Regions from separate parts of the Homo sapiens genome. Here all the other regions are linked to region 2. The links come from fine-mapping of genetic effects on gene expression. Tissue or cell type: whole blood. Region 2 holds a variant in brackets; each other region holds the start of a gene. All regions are shown on one strand. Distances are from middle to middle.

Region 1 (8,104 bases), 180 kb before region 2:
GAAGAATCACTTAAACCCGGGAGGCAGAGGTTGCAGTGAGCTGAGATCATGCCCCTGGGCGACAGAGTAAGACTGTCTCAAAAAAAAAAAAAAAAAAAAAGAAAAAAGAAAAGAAAAGAGTCAGGGCCCAGATTTAAATCTACCTGTTACCAGCTATGTGACCTTGGGCAAGTCACCTTCTCTGAAACTATTTCTTCACCTGTGAAATGGGATAATAATATGAAACTCCACAGACTGAGGAGGCTATTGTGGAATAATCAAATTCAGTAAATATAGCACATCCAGTACAATTCTGGGCACTAGATAAGTAATCAGTAATGTTTTATTCTTCTCCCTCGGCCCATCCTCCCTCCCAGCAAACACACACACTCTGCTCCTCAGGGACCACACTCAACATCAGGGAGCAGCTAAAGCACAGGATTTGGAATCAGAGAACGACGTTAGAGCTTTGCTTTGCCACTTCCCAGCTGGGGGGCATCAGGCAAGTCATTTGGCCTCTCTGAGCCCCAGGTTTCTTATCTGTAACATGGGAATTGTGTTCCTTGCCCCTCCTCACAGCATTGCTCAAGAGAGAGAGCTTCAGATAGGCCATGGTAATAATGATCCAAAAAGATTTTTTTTTTTTTTTGAGATGGAGTTTCGCTCTTGTCGCCCCGGCTGGAGTGCAATGGCACGATCTTGGCTCACAGCAACCTCTGCCTCTCGGGTTCAAGTGATCCTCCTGCCTCAGCCTCCTGAGTAGCTGGGACTACAGGCACGCCACCACGCCAGGCCAATTTTTTGTATTTTTAGCAGAGACAGGGTTTCGCCATGTTGACCAGGCTGGTCTCAAACTCCTGACCTCAGGTGATCCGTCTGTGTCGGCCTCCCAAAGTGTTGGGATTACAGGTGTGAGCCACCGCACCTGGCCTAAAAGGATTTTTGAGAGGAATTTTCTAGTTCAGTTGGTTACCTCTATTTCTCTCCTATGAGAGGAAGGGCTCCCGGGACTGAAAACACAGTCCTCTTTGTATAGGTTCCAGATTTTCTACCTGGAACACCTGGTATGCAAATAAGCAGCATGTTAGCAATTGTACAAGAATGCGCCAGAGCAGGATCTGAACACACAGAATTCTGGCTTGTTCATGCACAGTGTGGAATCTAATAAGATGGGAAGAAGGAAAACTTGTGTAATAGTGGTTATGTGGTTTCAAAAGGGTTTCCTTTTCCCCAACTCCAACACAGGAAAAAGGGGAGGTACAGAAGAGAGAATCTTTTAAATGTGCCTTCTCTGCTCTAAAATTCCACATGCTCCAAATCTCTGGGGACACATCCTGCCTTCTTTCCCATGGGTTAGGCCCCTATTGCATGTGTCCACAATGATGAAAAGATGGTGAGGTGACCCCTGAAGGCTGGTCACCAATCCCCAGGCTAATGAATTGCTTCTTACCCCTCTGATAGCAATTGATGGTGCCTCTGAAGACTCTTGTGATTTTAACAGGGTGACATGTCTGTTTAGCTGATGGCTGCTGTTCTCACCAGGGAGTGGCAAAATAAGGTTGGAAAACCCCAACCAGTAGCCTCAGATATAAAAGAAAACTAAAAGCATGAGGGATCATCTGCCAAACTTGAAGCCCTGTTCCCATCAGAACCCACAAGCTTCAGCAGCCTAAGCACTCTCAAAGTATGGTTCCAAGACCAGCTGCATCAGTGTCACCCAGGAACCCTTTCGATACCCACATTCTTAGCCACCCCAGACCTTCTAAATCAGAAAATCTAGGGGTGCAGCCTCCCAAGTAATTTTGATACATGCTCCCAGGTGGTTTCAGAACCACTATCCTAAAGTAACAAACCACGCATTTTAAAGCATAAAGTCTTGATCTCGCCCAGGCATGGTGGCTCACGCCTGTAATCCTAGTACTTTGGGAGGCCAAGGCAGAAGGATCACTTGAACCTGGGAGTTGGAGACCAGCCTGGACAACATAGTGAGACTCCATCTCTATTTTTTTTTATATATATAAATAAAAAAAAATCCTGATCTCTTCAAAGTCCACTGGCAGTTGTGGAATGGTATGTTGAGCCAGTGCCTGGGTCCAGTCCAGGTTCTACTAATTCCCAGCTGTGGGACCCTGGGCAAGTTACTGAACCTCTCTCAGCCCAACTCTTTGCCTATAATATGGAGATAATACCTACTGATTCAGTTGTCCTGAGTTTAGAAATAACAGTTGTATGGGCTGGACCCCAAAAAGATAGCGGTGACTCCATTTGGTGGATGGGGAAGGAGTTCAGAACATGCCACCACAACATATGCTGCTCTGGCATATTGAGTATTTGAGTTAAAGGCACTTGAAAAATAGCAGATGCAAGAAGGGCACTCTTGATCATCCTTCTTTTTCTAAAAAACAGGAGATGAGGCCGGGCATGATGGCTCACATCCTATAATCCCAGCACTTTGGGTGAGAAGCCAAAGTGGGTGGATTGCTCGAGCCTGGGAATTCAAAACCAGCCTGGGCAACACGGCAAAACCCCATCTCTACAAAAAAAATACAATAATTGGCCGGGCGTGGTGACTCAGGCCTCTAATCCTAGCACTTCGGGAGGCTGAGGCAGGTGGATCACCTGAGGTCAAGATTTCGAGACCAGCCCAGCCAACATGGTGAAACCTCTCTCTACTAAAAATACAAAAAAAAATTAGCTGGGTGTGGTGGCATGCCCCTGTAGTCCCACCTACTAGGGGAGGCTGAGGCAGAAGAATCGCTTGAACCCAGGAGGCGGAGGTTGTAGCGAGCCAAGATCGCGCTACTGCACTCCAGCCTGGGCGACAGAGGGAGACTCCATCTCAAAAAAAAAAAAAAGTATTTAGATTTTGCCAGTTCTCAGGGTCTTCATTTCCTTATGAGGGCTTCCACGTCATGTAAAACTTGTATTAAATCTGTTTTTCTCCCCTTAATCTGTCTTATGCCAAATTAATTCTCAAGCCCAGCCAAAGACCCTAGGAGGGCAGAGGTAAAGTCCTGCTTCCCTTACAATGGCATCTGCTTAAAAGCTCCAAAAAATGTCTTGGCCTTTGTCACACTTCTGTGGACACAGTCAAGTCCTTTAAATCCTCTCAAGTCTCACGTTTGTAACCAAGCCAAGTAAATCCTGTCCTGCTCCCTAAGGAACACAGAAGGTCTGAGATGCCCTGCCTAGGCCGCGCCCAAAGGCCAGATGGGCTTCCCGAGGCCTGGCCGGGAGGGCCTCAGATGTCAGCTTGACTGACCCCCTCCTTCTCCCCAGAGGGACAGGGCCCGGGTAAGGGCTTGACCAAGGTCGCGACGCGAGACGGTGGCGGAGCCCGGCCCCAGCTAGATCCACGCACTCACAGTCCTCGCTGCCGCCCCCGCCCCAGGTCAAGGGGCGCCACTCGCCCCACTGCCCGCCTCGAGAGGGTTTTTTCCCAGGCCCCGCACCCTCACGCCGTGCGACCTGGACTCCCACGGCGGGACCCGGGCTCACACCTCTTCCTGCTGCGGGGCGGAGTCGCCGCCGCTCCGGGTCTTTGTCCCCGCCTCCGAGACCCCCGCGCGCCCCCAGCACTTCCGGCCGCGGGAGCCAAGGGTTCGTGCCGGGCAGCGTCTCCCGGGGCCAGGTCGCCTCCTGCCGGGACCCGGGCGCGCTGCAGCCGCGGAGCCGGGTGCCCCGCCCTCTTCCCGCCGGCGGCGGAGTCGCTGCCGCTCCGGGTTCCCGTCCCCGCCTCCGAGACCCCCGCGCGCCTCCTCCAGGCGAGCTGCGGGGCGGGAAGGGTCCGGCCACCGTGGGCCGCTGCCAGCCGCGGGGCTGCCGAGGGCCGCGGGCACGGGGCGCTGGCTCCGGGTCTGGCGGCCGCTGATGGGAGTCGGAGCCCGGGCGGGCGAGCGGCGGCGCGGCGGCCACCATGGGGAACAAGCAGACCATCTTCACCGAAGAGCAGCTAGACAACTACCAGGTGAGCTCGGCGCGCCCGGCCCCCAACACAGGCCCCGCCGCCCCGCCGCCCCTCCCTTTTCTCGGTCGCTGGCCGAGGCCTCCCGAGAGCCAGCTCTCCCAGGTTCAAACCCTGCCTCTGCCTTCAGCTCGACGCGTGACCTTGGGCCGGTGACTTCCCCTCGCCGTGCCTCAGTTTCCCCACCGGTGGAATAAGAGCTCTTTCCAGTTGGAAGAACCTCTCAGGCGCGCCTCTCTCCAGCTACTCTCGCCCTAGGCAGGACCCGAACCCCTCTCCAGCCACCCATTCCAGCGCCCATCTGGCCCGGAGAGGGAGTCAGTAAACTAGGCTGGACGGAGGACCGCCCTCCCCGCTCCCTGCCCCCCAGCCCCAGGAAGGAGCCCAGGAGAGCGAGTCTCTGTAAAGCAGAAATGAGAGCTGGCGTCCTGTCTGGTCTAGGAGTGGGGTGCATCAGTCCCCACATGCAGTCTTCCCTTGGGACTGTCTTGTTTATCGGCTGGGGTTCGCTCCTTCTGACCCCAGCATGGAGATAACTGGAGCAAGAACGCAAGCCCGGTAGCAGCCTTCCAGGGCCACCTCTCCCAGCTCCCTTAGGCCCTCAGTAGCCACCTCCTTAGACCTTTCTAGGTTTTCCTGCCTCCAGAGCCAGCTTTCCAGATCTGGAATCCCAATACCGTCCCACCCAGGTAAAAACTTCGCTGTGGTTGCAGGATGAAGCCCAACCCCTTGGCTTACCCGGAGCCCTGGCCAATTGCTCAGCTTATCTCTGCAGCCTCAGTCTCCCCAGGTCCCTTCCCTGCCCTCTGCATGGCAGCCGCCTTAAAACCATTTGCAGTTGCTCCAGCTCACCAGGCTCATTCCTCCCTCCCTCTCTCCCTCTGCCCATGCCATTTCCTGGGCCTGGATGCCTTTCCCCCCTCCAGAGGATCTCTTTCACCCTTCAAGTCCCACATCTGATGCCTCTCCCCTGACTCCCCAGGCGGAGGGGGCAGGATTGTGTTGTGGCCTGTGTAACTGGGCAGGAGGAACACCAACAGGGTCTCCATAGGCACTTGTTGCCTTCATCAGTGCTTACTTTGGCTGTGAAGGAAAGCAGGTGTGAAGTGTGGGTCCTCTGATGTGGGTGAAGGTAAAACAAAGGCCCCTTCTCCTCCTAGAAGCCCTAGTTGTCAGTAATGGATTTCTCAGCTCCCCAGGTGAGGCCCTGGGAAGGAAGAGGGGAGACGCATTTATGGAGCACCTGCTGTGTACCAGGCACAGTAATTGATGCCCTCTACGCATCAACTCACTTGATCATCACAGTGAGGTGGATTATTAGCCCATTTTACAGACGTGTAAACAGAGGCTGAGGAGCCATTCAGGGCTCACACAGGATTTCGAATCTTGACTCCTAGGCTCACTTCTTTAGTTGGGAGTGGGCTGGGCTGGGCCATGTGTGCTTTTTGTTCCCAAGGCACTCAGTCTCAGACACTCAGAGACAGACTCTCACCTCCAGTGTGTGGCCCTTGTGATAGAGGCAGGTGGTGGAGTGTGTTCTAGGGAAGGGCACTAGTGGGCAGTGGGAGGCCAGCAGGGAAGGGGGACAAAGTCCAGAAACGATACAGCACTTGAGCAGGCCTTGGGAAGATAGGTCGGGTTTTGCCCAGTGGGGCCCAGAGGAGGCATTCCAGGTGGAGGGGACAGCGTGGATAAAGGCTTGGGAGTGGGCAGGGGCAAGCAGGCAAGCCATGCTCAGAAGTGAGGAGTAGCTTCATGGGGGTGGGGAGCCCAGGTTCCCACTCCAACCAGCCTGGCATTGGGTTACTCATCGGAGCCAGTCCCAGTGTTATGTTCTGATTCTTTGCCAGAGCCTAGCTAGACCCTGCCAGGCGGGGTGGGAGAAATGAGAGCTGTGAAACCTGAGAGCCCCACATCTCCTACCCTCTGGCTCTCCAGCCAGCCATTGCCAGCCCGGGCTGAGTGGGGGTGAGCCTGAGTTACAGCACCCTCTCCCCTAAGTGACACCTAGGGTTTCTTGGGACCTCCCAGCCTGGTAGTCTAACCTTTCCTGGGCAGGGTGCACCCTCTTGGTTCCCGGTGCCGGTGATTCCCAACATTTAAGCTTCTGTCCAGAACACTCCTCTGCATTGTACGGCCATCCCCCAGACCCCTCAAACTCCAAAACAGGGGTCACAGCCTCTCCAACACCCACTGCTGCTCCTCCAGCCATTTCAACTCTCTGCTCTCCCTCAGCCCATGTTTTCAGTTAAGAACAAGGCCTGTGACTCAGCCTCTTTTGTGGGTCACCTGGAGGTCCCCTCCTCCATCACGACAGCCAGGGCCCTGGGCTAGGCCTGCTCAGTCTCCTGCAAACTGGAGGTCTGACTGCTCCCTCCTGCGCCCCTCCTGCCCATCCCCCTCCAGCCACCCGCCCTCTTAGTTCTCTCACTCTTCCTTCATCTCTTTCTTTCTCTTCCTTTTTTTTTTTTTTGAGACGGAGTCTCGCTCGCCCTGTCACCCAGGCTGGAGTGCAGTGGTGTGATCTCGGCTCACTGCAACCTCCGCATCCCAGCTCCGCCTCCCAGGTTCAAGCAATTTTCCCTGCCTCAGCCTCCCAAGTAGCTGGGATTACAGGCACCCACCACCATGCCCATCTAATTTTTGTATTTTTAGTAAAAACAGGGTTTTGCCATGTTGGCCAGGCTGGTCTCAAACTCCTGACCTCAGGTGATCCACCTGCCTTGGCCTCCCAGAGTGTTGGGATTACAGGTGTGAGCCACCGCGCCGGGCCTCCAGCCTCATTTCTTACTCCCTTTCCCTTTGCACCCAAAGTTTTAGGCACACTGAAGGGCTTCTAGCCAAGCCCTCCCTCACCTCTGGCCCTTGTTCTCCTGCTGCTCTCCCTGCTCCTTTGCTAACCTAGTCTGGCCCATCTTTCTGTCCAGGCCAGGCCTCACCTCTTTGGGACGGGCTCCCTGACTCTCTCTCCACCAATCCATTCAGCTGGGAGTACTCAGGGAGCCTGACACATATACATCCCCAGTCCCTTGTGTGGCCACAGAATGGTTTATACTGGGCACCTCACTGTTTACACTCCAGCTTCCTTCTTGTATGGCCTCTGTCCAGGCACAAAAGAGATGTTTGGAGGATGTTGTCAAATGAATGAACAAATATTTGTTAAGGCGTGGCTCCAGGAGAGCAAAGAACTCTAGACAAAGATTCTGAAGCCCTAGATTCAAGTCAGCTGGGTAGTTGATGCTGTGGGCCTTAGCAAGCCACTGTTCCCTTCTGGGCCTAAGTGTCTCCACCTCTAAAATGGGAACTACTAACCCAGCTGTGCTCATGTCACAGGGTTCTTGTGGGGATCAACTAAGATCACTGGAGACTGACCTTGAGCCGTGTGATGGTCCCCTGGGCAGTGCTGAGGCCTGAGCTGGCAGAGCTGGATGGAGAGCCATTTCCATTAGAGCTGGGAGGGCCCATGGCTCGGCTCCTGACAGCTGGCACAGGCAGACCAGGCATGTAGGAGATGGGAGGCAGGTGGGTTACCTGGAACAAGTCACCCTTGAGTTGAGCTTTGGAGAAAGGGTTTGGACAACCTGGAGAAAGAGGAGAGGGCACTCCAGTTGGGGAATAGGGTGAATATAGGCTCGGAGGCAGAACTCAAGCCTTAACTGGGAAAACGTCTGGGCTTCTACTGTAAAAGCCCAGCCTGTCCTGTTTTCTGCTGCCAATGTTCTGAGAGCCCATCACTCCTGGGTTAGGCCCCCTCTCTCCTTCCCTCCCTTCCACTCCTCATGACCCAGACCTGACCTTTGCCGGAAGACCTGTCCCTGTGTCCCTGTGTACTGTCAGGAACCAAGCAGTGATGGGGCACTTGCTCTCCAAAAGTGTAAGAAAGGGTTCCTTCAGACATAGGGCTGTAGCTCCCAGGGCAGCTGAGGGTGTAGTGGTGGGCAGGGTGTTTGGTGACTCCAGAGAAGGGAAAGACAGCAGAGCTACCGACTCTGGGGAGATGCCTTTGGGACCTGGGTGGTGGATGGAGCTGTTGTACTCTTTCCTATCAGCTGGGGCCTATAGACTTCCTGTACCTTATCTCATTTGCTCTTCACACTGTCCCCTTCAGAGAGGCCTATTTCCACTTTACAGATGCAGAAACTGAGGCTCAGAAAGGAGAAT
Region 2 (8,104 bases):
TCTCCAGGAAGGCTGGAACAGAACCCTCGGTTCCCGCGCGGCTCTGGTGCCACCTGCAGGTTATATGGGGGAACTGCTTCTCCCCACCCCAACCCTGGACAGACTTGGACTTGGCCAAAAGACAGAGCACGCGAAGCCCCGGCAGGGGAATGGGCTGGACCCAACAGTGAAGTTCACGTTACAGAATCAGAAGGGCCCAGCTTAAACCAACAAAGCCCAGCTCCTCCTCTTCCTACCCACTCCTGTCCTGTCTCATTTTGTAGAAGGGAAACTGAAGCCTAATTCAGATTTTTCATTGGTAGGATTGTGAAGCATACAGCTGGAGCCTCCCAGGTGCCATTCCCCACATCTCTGTCTTTCCCCTAATACGTTAGGATAGTGGGGAAGCAAGCGAGCTTAAGCTTACTAAGCTCCTACTGTGTACTGGCCAGAGTGGGCACTTTTCTCTCCAGCCTTGCAATTGATGGGAAATAGGTGATTACACAGCTAGGATACAGGATTAGAGTGGGCTAGCGATGTGCTTACAGTCTCTCAGCTGAAACTGGAACCCAGTGTGAATATGTCAGTCTAAATGGAGAGCTCTATGCATGTTCCTCTCTATTCCCTTTGTTACCAATACCAATTCCCAAGGCAGAGCCCCAGGAGGGCTGGCCTGAAGGACCTGGAGGTTAATAGAAAACAGCTCAAGAGTGGTGTACACGTCACTGGACTTTGGATTTCCCCTGCTGTGTTGGAGCCTGTGATTGCTTCCGGCAGTAAACTGAGGACACTGTAGGGTTCACCTTCTTTTAGGGATCATAGTTCTGCTCGACCTGTTCTCCAATGTCCGAAAACTATTGTTTTATATATGTTGTTCCATTTTTCTAGTTGTTCAAGGTGGGAGGCAAATCTGGTCCCTGTTATCAATCATGGCCACATGTAGAGGTTGCAGGATGTTGTTTATATATCTTTTTTTTTTTTTTGAGACAGGATCTCACTCTGTCACCCCAAGTGGCACCATCTCAGCTCACTGCCACCTACACTTCGTGGCCTCAAGTGATCCTCCCACCTCAGCCTCCCAAAGTGCTGGGATTACAGGTGTGAGCCACTGCGCCCAGCCTAAAATTGTATCTTTCTTATTATCAGTGAAGTTAAACATTTTTTCCTGTGTGTCAGTGGCATTTGCATTTTTCTTTGAACTTTCATATATTTTTTCAATTTTTCTTAGAATTGTTGGTCTTTGTCTTCTCTACTTTTAGAATAGAATGAATATGATATTAATCATACTTCGAATTGTGGCCATGATGGAGTACCTGAATTGATGATGGTCTCCCAGCATAAACAACTACAAAGCTGGACAAAGTACATGAAGAAATTGTCTTCAGGCATTGGGCAATAGGCAGTTCCAGGTACAAACTGAGAGAAGGGAATCACATGAAGTGACTGCTACATTTTTCTGGTGGGGAAAGTTTCCAAACCCTCAATGACAGCATGAGGAAGCAGAGTCCAAGCCAAGAGGATCAGTCTTGTTTGGTGGAGGAAACAGGGACTGCCACTCAGGGCTGCTAAAATGTGTGTGGCAGAGTATCAGAAAGGACGGAGTTGCAGAGAAGGAGCCCCAGAAATCTTATAGAGGTTGTTGCAGGTCCTTGGCCAAATCCCAAACTACGAATGTGTGGATTGAGACTCTGCAAGGCCCAGCACAGAACAGCCGATGGGGAGCTGAAAGCTAAACATCGATTTCAGTGGTCACAGAGTGCTGGGGATACACCCGAATTCTGGCTCAACCAGAGTCTCCACTCTTGGAATCTCAGGTCTTGATGAATATCCCAGACATTCACAGAGGGCCTAGAAGGCCATGCCTTGGGATTAAGGAAGATTCCCTAGGAATAAGGGCAAAACTGAAAAACAGCTCACCCTAACAAAGCCTAAAATGTAGCCTTGACACACATGATCAAGTTAACCCATCAGTAATTTAATTCCCTGCAAAACAAAACTCAACACTAGAGTAGGATAACATAATCCATATCTCTACAATGAAGGTTCACAATGTCCAACAGATCAAGAAATACTTACTAGATAAGTGAAAAAGTGAGAAAATACATCCTAAAATTAAGAGAAAACCAGTCAATACGAACAGACCCACCATGCATGGTGGCTCATGCCTGTAATCCCAGCACTTTGGGAGGCCAAGGCAAGTAGATCACTTGAGCTCAAGACTTCGAGACCAGCCTGGGCAACATGGCAAAACCTCATCTCTACTAAAAATTCAAAAATGAGTTGGGTGTGGTGGTGTGTGGGGGTCCATAACCCCCAGGCTGTGGGCTCTACCAGTCAGTGACCTGTTAGGAACCAGGCTGCGCAGCAGGAAGTGAGTGGTGGGCAGCGAGCATTACTGCCAGAGCTCCGCCCCCCATCAGATCAGCAGGCATTAGATTCTCCTAGAAGTGTGAACCCTAATGTGAACTGCACATGCGAGGGATCTAGGTTTCACACTCTTTATGAGAATCTAATGCCTGATGATCTGAAGTGGAACAGTTTCATACCGTAACCACCACCCCCAACCCCGTCTGTGGAAAAATTGTCTTCCACGAAACCAGCCAGGACTGCTGGTGGCATGTGCCTGTGGTCCCAGCTACTTGGAAGGCTGAGGTGGAAGGATGGCTTGAGCCTGGGAAGTGGAGGTTGCAGTGAGCTGAGATCATGCCACTGCACTCCAGCCTGGACAACAGAGTGAGACCTTATCTCAAAGAAACAAACAAACAAAAAGGGCCAGGCATGGTGGCTCACACCTGTAATCCCAGCACTTTGGGAGGCTGAGGCAGGCAGATCACCTGAGGTCAGGAATTCAAGACCAGCCAGGTGAGGTGGAGGTTGCAGCAAGCTGAGATGGCGCCATTGTACTCCAGCCTGGGCTACAAGAGCAAAACTCCATCTCAAAAAAAAAAAAAAAAAAAGAAAAAGAAAAAGAAAAGACCCATAAATGGCTCACACATTAGAATTATTAGGCAAGAGCTTTAAAGTAACTGTACATACATTAAAGAATTTAGAGAAATATCAACACCTGTGAAGGATGGTGAAAAAAGAATAGAGAGAAATAAGTTTTAGTATAAGTATGTCCTAAATATGCATGGTACGTACTTACTAAAAAAAAGTTGATTTTTTATCAGAAATCTAAATTCAACTGGGTGTCCTATATTTTATCTAGCATCTCTACCCCAAAGCCAAGCAGGAGAGAGTCCAGAGTCCTATCTTCCAGCAGGTGACCTAGCCTAGGACAGGGCCTGGCCAGGGGCAATTGTGCATTGGATGGGTTAGAGATGCCAGTCATTCAATGTGTCAAAGGTTTGCCAGACCTGCATAGAATCAATATTATTTTTAATATTTTTGTCTAAAGCAACTTTACAAATTTTAACCTTTTATTTGGAAATATAGATTCAGAGGAAATTTCAAAGATGGTACAGAGAGGTTTCATGTACTCTTCACTCAGCTTCCTCCAAAGGTTCTATTTTGTATAAATGTAGGACAATATCTAACAATGTCATGTCTATGCCATTTAATCACATATGTAGACTCCTTTAACCACCACTACAATCAAGACACAGAACTGTTCCACCACCATGAAAATCCCCCTCCTGCTATTCCTCTGCACTCATTCCTGGCTCTTCCCCTCCACTATTCCTACTCCTGGCAACCACTAATCTGCTTTCTGTCTTTATAATCTTTTCACTTCAAGAACATTATAAAATGCAACAATTAGCCAGGCGTGGTGGCACCAGCTTGTAGTTCCAGCTACTTGGGAGGCTGAGGCAGGAGAATCACTTGAACCTGGGAGGTGGGGGCTACAGTGACCCTACCACTGCAGTCCAGCCTGAGAGACAGGGTGAGAATCTCTCAATGAATGAATGAATGAAGGCCTGGCACGGTGGCTCACACCTATAATCCCAGCACTTTGGGAGGCTGAGGCAGGTGGAACTGTTGTGGCCTTGAGTTTGAGACCAGCCTGGCCAACATGGCAAAACCCTGTCTCTAGTAAAAATACAAAAATTAGCCAGGCATGATGGTGCGTGCCTGTACTCCCAGCTACTTGGGAGACTGAAGCATGAGAATCACTTGAACCCGGGAGGCAGAGGCTGCAGTGAATCGAGATCATGCCACTGCCCTCCAGTGTGGGCCACAGAGTGAGAGTTCATCTCAAAAACAAAATAAAACAAAACCAAAGAAGAAAAGAACATTGTATAAATGGAATCACACAGTATGTGGCCTTTTGAGACTGGCTTTTTTTTTTTTTCTACTCAGCAAATGCCCTTTGAGATCCATCCAAGTTGTGCATGTTCCTTATTGTTTTTTTCTGTTTGAGATGGTGTCTCACTCTGTCACCCAGGCTGGAATGCAGTGGCGCGATCTCAGCTCACTGCAACCTCCACCTCCTGTGTTCAAGCAATTCTCCTGCCTCAGCCTCCTGAGTAGCTGGAATTATGGGCACCCATCATCATAGCTGGCTTTTTGTTTTTTTGTTTTGGAGATGAAGTTTTGCTCTTGTTGCCCAGTGCAATGGTGTGATCTCAGCTCACTGCAACCTCTGCCTCCCAGGTTCAAGCAATTCTCCTGCCCCAGCCTCCTGAGCAGCTGGGATTACAGGTGCCCGCCACCATGTCCAGCTAA[C/G]TTTTTGTATTTTTAGTAGAGATAGGGTTACACCATGTTGGTCAGGCTGGCCTCGAACTCCTGACCTCAGGTGATCTGCCTGCCTCGGCCTCCCAAAGCACTGAGTTTACACGCATGAGCCATCATGCCTGGCTCCCTTTTTATTGTTGAATAGTATTTCATAGAATAGATGTAGCAGTTTGCTTAACCATTCACCTATTGGGGAGTATTTGGTTGTTTCCAGTTTGGGACTATTACAAATAAATCTGCCATGAACAATCATGTATGAGTTTTTGTGCAAAAATCAGTTTTATTTTCTGGTACAAATGCCCAGAAGCAATTGCTAGGTCATATATTGAGGTGTATGTTTAACTAAAGAAGCTGCCAAACTATTTTCTAGAGTGTCTGTAAAATTTTATATTCCCACCAGCGATGTATGAGAGTTAGTTTTGTCTGCATCCTCACCAATATTTGATACTATCACTATGCTTGATTTGAGCTGTTCTAATAGATCTGTAGTAATATCTTACTGTGGTTTTAATTTGCATTTCCCCAGTGGTTAGTGTTGAAGATCTATTCCTGTGCTTTAAGTCAACTCATTTTTAAAACCTAAATAAATGTATTTAAAAAGGAAACTTTTGCTTTAGGAGGCCAAGGCAGGTGAATTGCTTGAGTCCAGGAGTTTGAGACCAGCCTGAGCAACATGGTGAAACTCCGTCTCTACAAAAAACAAAAAAAATCCAGCGTGGAGGCATGCACCTGTGGTTTCAGCTACTCAAGAAGTGAGGCAGGAGGATTGCTTGAGCCTGGGAGGTCAAGGCTGCAGTGAGCTGTGATTGCATCATTATACTCCAGCCTGGGTGACAGAGCAAAACCCTGCCTTAAATAAATAAATGAATAAAAGGAAACTTGTGGTTAGTGGTTCTCAGAGTGTGGTCCCTGAGCCAGCAGCATCAGCATCCCCATCAGCTGAGAACTTGTTAGAAATGCAGATTCTCAGGCGCCACCCCAGACCTCCTGAATCAGAACCTCTGAGGCGTGGGTTCAGCGACCTGTGGTTTAACACGCCCTCCCGGTGAGAATCGGTCTCATTCACTACAGATAGAAGGAAATGGTAAAAATCAATTCATCCGCATATCGCCTAAAATCCTCCTGTGGGCCCCAGGTTGGCACAGCACACTTTTGGGCAGGAGCCCCACTCACAGAGGCCGTGACAAGAATGCTCCTGCCCCTGGGGTTGTGCAGTGACAGCTCACACAGCTCCACGTGGCGGTTCTGAGTTTGGGAAGCGCTGATGTAGTCCTACTGCAGCCCTTCCTGCCCTTCACCGGACTGAGGAAATCCAGGCTCTGAGGAGGGCGAGACTTGCCCAAGGTCACCCAGCAACATGGTCAGTCTCCTTTCCCAGGGCCCTCACAATGCGTGGCCTGTTTAAAGCCTGCCTCTATTCACTGCTGAGTGAAAAATCCAGCTCCAAAGTAGAATATGGGGAAGGATACTATCTTGTGCAGCTTATGTTTATAGCTGCAGATACATGAGAAAAAAAGTCTGAAAATACTGTTGAAGTAGTTACTTGGGGAGAGAAGGGGTTTGCTGGTTTTTGTGTTTTTAGCTTTTATATTTCACAATTTTTATCACAATGTTTAGTTACATAATCAAAATTTATTAAATGTTAAAAATTGACATGAAGCCTGATCCAGCCACAGCCTATCATTGGCAGAGCCAGGAAGCCTTCCAGATACAGCAGCCCTGCACCTGCCCCCGGTCACACCCTGGGCCTGGGCACATGCTAGGTCCTCTGTCTGGACACCCTCACCCCCTGGTGGCCTCCACGTCAGTACCCACCAGCACCTCCTGTGGGCGAGGGCCGCCCCTGCATCCAGCCCTGGGCACCCCCTAGCCCAGAGGGCACCTCATGGTGTGAGAGTCCACCTGCCTGTCTCTAAAGAGAGGAAAGCTCCTTGGGACATGTGTTCTGCTTGACCCATCACCTCTGGCCTGGTACAGAAAGGTGGACAGTGGGTATTTGGTGAATAAATGAATGAATGATTGGAACGAACCCCCTAAATGGTGATTTCCTGAGGCCCTTCTCCAGCTGGCCCAGGTGGAACCAGTTCCACGTTTCACAGGAAAGCCAGGTGTGAGGAGTGGGGCAGGTGTGTGTGAGGGGCCAGGTTCTTGAAGGCTGCATGGAAACGGAGCTGGTGGCAGGTCTGGGGGTGGCAGTGCTGCTGTAGGAGCCTCAGGGAGGGCTCATCCCTGGAATCCCCCAGGGTATCCTAGTGCCCCCAGCTGCTGCATGGCATGAGAATTCCTGGCTGGTGGGGGACACACAAGGACTTGTTTGGATTGGCCACCTGGTCCAGCCCAAGGAGCTGCGCCTCCAGCACCTTGGGGGAAAAAAAGCACTTTTGATGTGTGACAACAGCTGCAGGCAAGGGGAGGGAGAGGTGTGCTGGGCCTCGGCCTTAGAAGCCAGAAGCCAGTTCATGCCCCTACTTGGTCTACGTGGGAAAGGGATGTGGCCTCGGCTAGCTCTAGGGTCCTGGGTTATGGAAAGGGCCCTTCCTTATGGACCCAGTGACTTAGGCTGACCCAGCCCCTCCCTGAGCCTCATCAGTGAAACCAGGGCTGGGCCAGGGCTCTCAACACCTCCCAGCTCCAACCTCTGGCTTTGTCCCAGGAGGGCAGGAGATCAGACAGAGGTGACCCGGGCTCCCTATTTACCTCAACCTCCTTGTGAAGCCTCCCTCTTTCTGCCTGTGAGGTGGGTGGGGCTGGAAAGAGGGGCATTCACCTGTGGGTCTCTGACTTCTCTGCCCAGGTGTGCCTGGGGAGTCTGGTCTATACCCGGTGCTCTGCTATACCCCACAGCCTGGTCACAACCTCCCTGCCTCCAGAGCAGCCCTGGCCCAGGGAAGAAGCGGGTCTCTGCATCCAATGATAGGTAGAAAATGAACGTGGGGATGATAGCACTGGAAAGGAGTCAAGGAGGAGGTGCCTTCCCAAGGATGTGGAGGGTTTTTCCAGAATGGAACTTGACTGGGGTGGGCAAACATCAGGAGGTGGGAAGGGTGGCTCCCTCTGTGGGAGCTGGGGCAACTTGCCTGGGCCAAATGGTGGTAGGCTGTGGGTGTAGGGTGGGCAGAGCTGGGGTGCCCAGAGCCTGGGGTCCCTGTCCTTGCAGAGGACTGGAATGCAAAACAAGTGCCCCCTGCCTTCTGGCTGCGGGACATCCTCTGCTTCCAAGCCCAGACATACACCTGCTGCCACAAGCCCCTGAGGCTCTTCAGAGGACCAATGGGCAGCCACACCCATGCTGGGCCAGCCTGCTGGGCCCACCTGCACCCTGGTCAGAGCCCATGACTGAGGGGACTCTCTGGGGGCAATGGGGGCAGTCCCATGCTGCCCTCTTACAGGTGGATCAGTCCCTGGGATCTGGTGCTGGGCTGGGGTGGGCTGAGGCTGTTCTCTGCTGGGG
Region 3 (8,104 bases), 120 kb before region 2:
ACTCAGGCCTGTGTCTGTGCAGCCTCCTCAGAGGGCCATATTCTGGACCCGGCCAGACCGAGGCAGGGGCCAGGCCAGTTTATCCCCTAATATACTAAAAAGCTCAGTGCCTGGGCCTGCCTGCTTGAGAGGCCTGTGAAATGTTTGTGGCCTAAGAAAAATGTATTGGCTCTAAAACCCAAGAAAAACAGCAAAATTAGAATTAATGAACATCTAATTAAATGTCTACAAATGTAACATGTCACCTTTATAGTCATCATAAAAATGTCATAACAGAGCTGGGCACCTTGGCTCATGCCTTAATCCCAGCACTCTGGGAGGCCAAGGTGGGAGGATCACTTGAGACCAGGAGTTTGAGACCAGCCTGGGCAACATAGCAGAGACCTATCTCTACAAAAAATACAAAAATTAGCTGAGCGTGGTGCTGCGCACACCTGTGGTTCCAGCTACTCAGGAGGCTGAGGTGGGAGGATTGCCTGAGCCCAGGAGGGGGAGGTTGCAGTGAGTTGAGGTAGCGTCACCGCACTCCAGCCTGGGTGACACAATGAGACCCATCTCCAAAAAAAAAAAAAAAAAAAAGGTCATTACATTTGAGAACAATTTCTAGGTTAGGTTTCTCTCACTTGGCCAAAATTCCCACACAGACACGATGATTGCCAAGAAATCAGCCAATTAAAAATGAAAATGAAAACTCATAATTAGATAATATCAAGAGCACAATTATGGATATTCCTGAAAACATTTTCATAGCAAAAATTATGTATATGTTTACTACGGGATGTAGAGCATTTTAATATGTTTGATATGATGTCAGGTGTGGCCTCCAGAAGGAAGAGGGCAGTGGCTTACAAGCATTTTATTTATTTTTATTATTATTATTATTTTGAGACAGAGCCTTGCTCTGTTACCCAGGCTGGAGTGCAGTGGCACGATCTTGGTTCACTGCAACCTCCTCCTCCCAGACTCAAGCGATTCTCCTGCCTCGGCCTCCTGAGTAGCTGGGATTACAGGCACGTGCCACCGTGCCTGGCTCATTTTTGTATTTTTAGTAGAGATTGGTTTTCACCATGTTGCCCAGGCAGGTCTCAAACTCCTGACCTTGTGATCTGCCCTCCTTGGCCTCCCAAAGTGCTGGGATTACAGGCGTGAGCCACCACACTCAGCCCTGCAAGCATTTTAAAATGGCCCCAGCTCATCTGTGCTGGGTGACCAGGGAAGGATTGGAGGCTCAGGTGTAGGGGAGTCAGGCTGAAGTCCAGCTTGCCCACTGAGGGGCACAGACAGCAGGTACGGTTCTGCATGCCAGGCCCTGGCGGATACAGCAGTGAACAAACCAATCATTCTCCTACCCTCGTGGAGATTATATTCTAGTAAGGCAGGGAGGTGACACACAAGAAAGCAGATAAAAGTAATGTGTGCTATGTTGTATAAATGCCGTGATGACATGTAGATGATTACCGCTTAAAACAGCACCCCTGTCCCGTCCCATCTGCCTAGCCCTGGCCAGCCAGCCCAGACTCTTAGTCCAGGAGGGGGGCTCGTGGCTTGTGCCTGTGAAGGATGCCTTCCTCGGGCCTAGCAGACATCGGCCCCCGTGAGACACCTCATGGGGCTTGGTCCTGTCCACTGGGACCACAGGTCATGGCCACCCCCACTTCCTTATAACTTACTGATAGATCTAGGAGAGATGGGCTACACCCTCCCCTGTCCTGTTGCCTCCCTGTACCATGGCAATACAGACCGGGTTCTCCCAGCTCTTCCCTTTCCCACAGTATTTCAAGGTCAGACCTCACCCTGACTGCCTACCCCACAAGCCAATTAGTCACAGCCCCTTTTACATACATGGTGAGGCCCAAATTGAACTTGGGACCCCTTGCTCCCGAGAGCAGCCCACTCCACTCCCGCAGCACCGCAGTGTCTGGCCTCCCTTGTCTGGGCCCGGTCTGACTGTTGGATTCCCCCTCTCCGAATCTGCTGACTGATGAGGAAGACATCGGTGTTAACTGCAAGATGATAATAATAACAGCTGATATGTGCTGAGTGCTTACTATGTGTGAGGCACCGTGCTAAGCACTTTCATATGCATTTCTCACGTAACCCTTTCAATAACAACAGCACGAGATAGCTACTTGTATTTATCAACCCTGTTTTATAAATGAAGAGACTGAGGCCCAGAGAGGTTAAATCACTTGCCCAAGGTCATGCCTCTGGTAAGTGGCAGAGCTAGGAGACACATCTGGTCAGTGTGAAGTCAGAGCCCAGTCCTTAACACTGTGCTGATTGTGCTCAAAGACAGGTGGAGAGGTCAGCCACACCTCTGATGGGCCCCAGGAAAGGAATGCTTGCGTGGTGCCACTTTAGGGCCTGCAGAGAGTCGGCAGGCTGGGTGAGGACCCAGAACCTGCCCTTCCTACCTGGGTGGCTCCAAACAGGCAGTCTAATTTGTGTCCCTGTCCAGCTCAGAAAGGTCAGTTTTCCACCTGGGTCTTTCAGTGTGTCTGTATAAAACATGCAAATCTATGAGGGTGAGATATTTGGTTTGGGCTTTCACAAATGTAGCTATGTAGCTATACACTTCCTTTTTCCTTTGAATAAAGTGAGCTCTTGTACTCACTATTCCCTCTCCCTGGAATGCTTCACCCACATTTCTGGTTGCCCCTGTCCCTCCCATCATCTGGGTTTGTGCTCCATGTCACAGGATCAGACCAGCCTCCTTGCCTGTCCTGGGGCAGCAGCCTGCTATCTGCCCCCCATCACTTCATCCTCTCACTTTGCTTTTTACTTATTTTTTATTCTTGTGGGAACATAGTAGGTGTATATATTTATGGGTTACATGAGATATTTTAATACAGGCATGCAATGCATAATAATCAAATCAGGGTAAGTAAGGTATCCATCACCTCAAGCATTTATCCTTTGTGTTACAAACAATCCTATTATACTTTTTTTTTTCTTTTTAGACAGAGTTTTGCTCTTGTTGCCCAGGCTGGAGTGCAATGGCGCAACCTCGGCTCACTGCAACCTCCACCTCCGGGGTTCAAGAGATTCTCTTGCTTCAGCCTCCCGAGTAGCTGGGATTACAGGCATGCACCACCACGCCCAGCTAATTTTGTATTTTTAGTAGAGACAGGGTTTCTTCATGTTGGTCAGGCTGGTCTCGAACTCCCGACCTCAGGTGATCCACCCACCTCGGCCTCCCAAACTGCTGGGATTACAGGCGTGAACCACCGCGTCTGTATTATACTCTTTTGGTTATTTTTAAACGTACAATTATATTATTTTTGACTGTAGTCACCCTGTTGTGCTAGCAAATACTTGGTCTTATTCATTCTTTCTCTTTGCTTTATTACAAAGCAATAGATTTGCCTTCTCAGGTTGTGAGTGTTCAAATAAGTTAGTCTATAAAGCACTGATAAATACTAGGTGCTATTTTAAGCGGTAATCATTTACATGTCATCACGGCATTTATACAACATAGCACACATTACTTTTATCTGCTTTCTTGTGTGTCACCTCCCTGCCTTACTAGAATATAACCTCCACGAGGGCAGGAGAATGATTGGTTTGTTCACTGCTGTATCCGCCAGGGCCTGGCATACAGAACCGTACCCGGCATTCAGAAGGCGCTCAATAAATATATGTTGAATTCAATAAATGAACTGAGGTCTGGAGAGGCAGGAAACGCTTTGGCTTTCATGAATTCTGCAAATATTTACTGAGCACCCACTCAGCACCAGGCAATAGGCTGTCTCATTTTTACAATATTAGCTTGAGACTCTGGCAGGAGGGAGATTTAAATATCAAGTTTTTAGAATAAGATACACAGTGTGAAATGCAGTTTTAAGCGGACACTCCGCTGGGTTTTGAGAGATGCACACTCCCATGTACCTACACTGCCATAAAGAAATAGACCATTGCTTCATCCGGCAGGGCGAGGACTTGGAGCCCAGGTGGCACGAAGGCAACTGACCCGCGGGGTGCTGGTCGCAGGACCCTGCCTCCGGGGGCTGAGGGGGCAACGGCCGGCGGGCGGGCGGGGGCGAGACTACAAGTCCCAGGGTGCTTTGCGCGCCCGCGGGCCGTGCGGAGCGAAGGGGCGGTGCGGAGGGGGTAGGGGGCGCAGCGGCCGCGGCGCGGAGGCGCAGGGCGCGGGCGCCTACGGTTGGCGCGCGGTAGCGATGCCGGGGGCCGGAGCCCGGGCGGAGGAGGGCGGCGGCGGCGGCGAGGGCGCGGCGCAGGGGGCGGCCGCGGAGCCCGGGGCGGGTCCGGCGCGGGAGCCAGCGCGGCTGTGTGGCTATCTGCAGAAGCTGTCGGGCAAGGGCCCCCTGCGTGGCTACCGCAGCCGCTGGTTCGTGTTCGACGCGCGCCGCTGCTACCTTTACTATTTCAAGAGTCCGCAGGACGCGCTGCCCCTCGGCCACTTGGACATCGCGGACGCCTGCTTCAGCTACCAGGGCCCCGACGAGGCGGCGGAGCCGGGCACGGAGCCGCCCGCGCACTTCCAGGTGCACAGCGCGGGAGCCGTCACGGTGCTCAAGGTGGGACCGCTCGCCCCAAAGCCGCCCGCGCGCTTCCGCCGGCGTCCCCTGCCTCCGCCACTGGCTTGCGCCATCCACCCTCCTTCCTCCAAGGCCTCCTCGCCCCTGCCCACGTCGGCCTGCCTTTCCCTGCTTCTCCACATCCCGCCCTCGTTCCTATCTCCTCCCCACTATCTGGGCTTAGGCCAGTCTCGCTGGGGCTACCAAGCCCCGTCTCCTTTCTCAGACACCTTGACCCATTATCTCCCTCTGCGCCTAACCTCGGGCCAGTCTCTGGTGTCTCCCGACCCCCACCATCCCGTGGATGTCCTGTGCAGCCTTCCCAGGCATCCGTGAGCGTAGGCTTCTACCCCTGGGGCCTCCTTTAGAACTTTGCCTATGGCCTTGGTACCTCAGTGAACCGCTCTGGGCTGCAGCGGCCTCCTCTGTAAAATGGGATAACAGTAGTATCTACCTCATGGGGTGTTGGGATTAAATGAATTATACTTTAAACTGCTCAGTAAATGTCAGTGCTTTTATTTATTTGTTTATTTATTCTTTTTGAGACAGGATCTTGTTCTGTTGTCCAGGCTGGAGTGCAGGGGTGCGATCTCGGCTCACTGCAGCCTCCATGCCTGGGCTCAAGAGATCCTCCCACCTCAGCCTCCCAAGTAGCTGGGACCACAGGTGCGGGCCACCACGCCTGGCTAATTAAATTTTTTTTTTTTTTTAAAGAAACGGGGGTCTCACTATGTTGCCCAGGCTAGTCTCGAACTCCTGGGCCGAAACCATCCTCCCCATCCAGCTTCCCAAAGTGCTGGGATGCCAGGCGTGAGCCAGAGTGCATTTAGCACTGTAGACAGAAAGAGTCAGATGGCAGGGCCCTTAGAGACAGTCCACTACATTTTCCTCCAGAGTGGACGGGGATGCTCCAGCTAAGGTCACACAGCCAGTAGGTGGCAGATCCTGTGTTCTTCCTCCTTGCTTTGTCCAGGATGGGTGGGAGGGGGTCTTTTCAGCCAGTTATGCCTTGCTCCTTTGAGGCTCCCTTAATCCTCCAGTGGACAGACAAAATGAGAGATACAGTGTAGAAGCAGGAGAGTAGAGTCAGGAGTCCTGGTGCTGAAAGGCCTCCCCTGTCCTTGGGAGTTCTGGGGGACTAGACTGTCACCTCCTAGGGGCCCACCTGCTTTGAGCATCTGGAGGGATCTGGGCCCAGGCCTGGAGCTGGGTATCCTTTTTCCAGGCTTTGCTCCCTGCCTGGTTTCTGTGAGTCTCCACCCTCACTCTCACTCCTCTTCCGTATTCCAGGTTGGGCTTTCTCCAGAGCAACAGGGTTGGGCTGGGATGTATGAAAGTGCTCTCAAAGCTGGCCACACGGAGAGCAGACTAGGCAAACTCCTGGCCTTGTGAGCTGAGGACTGTTCCTCAGACCCCCAGAGCTGCTAACAGCTGGAGCTGCTCCCTGGAGATGTTCTTAGAGCTTTGCTGACTCAGCTTTTGCCAGTTCAAGCAGGATCTGATTCCCATGTTCTCTTGGGCTCCCCTGTCCTGTCTGTAAGTGGGTGCAGACAGCCTGTTTCCCCAAAGAAAACCAACTCGGGTTGCAGTCCTACACAGGCTTACTTAGAGAGTGCCTGTATAAACTTGGTAATGACCCTAGTGGGAGACCTTTGCCAAAGGCAGAGGCTCTTCCTCAGTGTACATACGGGCTGTCCCTGTGTCGGACGAATTTCCTGTGGGATGTTTGTTAAAGAAAATAGAGCATCGTGTTTCACATTTTTCCCAGATGACTGTAGAACTCTATCAGTTTTTTTCATTAAAATAATCTGAATCTCCTGTAATCCCAGCACTTTGGGAGGCCGAGACGGGTGGATCACGAGGTCAGGAGCTCGAGACCATCCTGGCTAACACGGTGACACCCCATGTCTATTAAATATACAAAAAATTAGCCAGGCATGGTGGCGGGTGCCTGTAGTCCCAGTTATTCGGGAGGCTGAGGCAGGAGAATGGCGTGAACCCGGGAGGAAGAGCTTGCAGTGAGCAGAGATCGCGCCACTGCACTCAGCCTGGGTGACAGAGTGAGACTCCATCTCAAAAAAAATTAAAAAAAAAATAATAAATAAGAATCTACATAAGCAGGGTTACAAGGCGCATTGTCAGAAGTGTGGCTTTAAACTTCGATGGACTTGAACTTGAAGCAGGAGTCTGCTGCTCACACATATTGGACAAATTACACCAGTTCCCTGCTCCAGTTTCCTCTTTGGTCTAGTGGGAATCATACCTTCCTCATTAGGTGGCTGTGAGGATTCTGGAGAATGTTATGGAAAATGGCTGGCGCATTTTCCATAGTGGTATGGAAAATAGTAGGCACTACATGGCATATGAAACATCAAGCAGTGTCTTTGGCCAAATATGTAGTGTATTCATATAGTGGAATATTATGCAGTAGTAAACAAAGGTACTAGAGCTATAGGTGTCAACGTGGATTACTCTCACAAACAATAAAATTGAACAAGAAGTAAGTTACACACTGATTGTGTTCAGAATGATACCACTTATAGAAAGGTTAGGAAGATCATGTGAAACAGTACTACAGATCATAAGGATGTATGCTCTTTCGCGAGGGGAAGAGCTTTATGGGGCTGATGAGCTCTGGTTTCCAGGTAGTGGTTGCCTGTGATGGGAAGAGGGAGGATGTGATTGGGAATGGGTGCCTCAGGGCTTCTCCTGTTTTGCAGTGTTTTATTTCTTGGACTGGGTCATAGGTATATCAGTGTTTGTCCTATTATGCTATCCATCTTTTTGTAGGTTCAGAATATTTCTTTTTTTAAAGAAAGGAAATACATTTTCCTTTGGGTTACTGACAATGGAGGAATATTTTGACATGTAAAATTAAATTGGTCACAGAATAAGATAGTACCGAGTGTTGGCTGTATACAACAATGGGAATGGAAATCAGGCAAGGCTTTCTGGAAGAAGGGAGGAGAAGGCCGGGCGTGGTGGCTCATGCCTGTAATCCCAGCACTTTGGGAGGCCGAGGCGAGTGGATCACTTGAGGTCAGGAGTTCGAGACCAGCCTGGCCAATATGGTGAAACCCCATCTCTACTAAAAATACAAAAATTGGCTGGGCATGGTGGCGCACGCTGTAGTCCCAGCTGCTCGCGAGGCTGAGGCAGGAGAATTGCATGAACCCGGGAGGCGGAGGTTGCAGTGAGCCGAGATCACACCACTGCACTCCAGCCTGAGCGACAGAGTGAGACTCCACCTTAAAAACAAACAAACAAACAAACAAACAAGCAAAAAACACCCCGACTCTAAAACCCTGCTCCCTTTTTTTTTTTGAAACAGAGTCTTGCTGTGTCGCCCAGGCTGGAGTGCAGTGGCACAGTCTCTGCTAACTGCAACCTCTGGCTCCCGGGTTCAAGCAATTCTCCTGCCTCAGCCTTCCGAGCTGAGGGACTATAGGCGCGTGCCACCGCTCCCAGCTAATTTTTGTATTTTTAGTAGAGACGGGGTTTCACCATATTGGCCAGGCTGGTCTCGAACTCCTGACCTCGTGATCCACCTGCCTCTGCCTCTCAAA

What was found. PIP is the estimated chance that this variant, and not a neighbour inherited with it, causes the effect.
Region 1: it holds the start of CIB2, and the variant in region 2 is fine-mapped to the expression of CIB2 in whole blood (TOPMed, PIP 0.91).
Region 3: it holds the start of TBC1D2B, and the variant in region 2 is fine-mapped to the expression of TBC1D2B in whole blood (TOPMed, PIP above 0.99).

Annotation. Positions count from the first base shown.
Region 1 is chr15:78,127,007-78,135,110 of GRCh38, reverse strand. CIB2 (calcium and integrin binding family member 2) reads left to right here and starts at 3,666. Exons shown (of 6, transcript NM_006383.4): 1 at 3,666-3,946. The coding sequence starts at 3,896. RefSeq lists a silencer at 3,442-3,961.
Region 2 is chr15:77,951,511-77,959,614 of GRCh38, reverse strand. No RefSeq gene overlaps it. Among named protein-coding and RNA genes, the nearest start is that of TBC1D2B, 120 kb to the left of the region's middle. RefSeq lists a silencer at 1-208 and an enhancer at 7,466-7,966. The variant C/G (reference allele first, on the strand shown) is at 4,645.
Region 3 is chr15:78,073,727-78,081,830 of GRCh38, reverse strand. It overlaps TBC1D2B (TBC1 domain family member 2B), which reads left to right and starts at 4,120. Exons shown (of 13, transcript NM_144572.2): 1 at 4,120-4,538. The coding sequence starts at 4,179. RefSeq lists silencers at 3,835-3,884, 4,035-4,244, 4,445-4,644.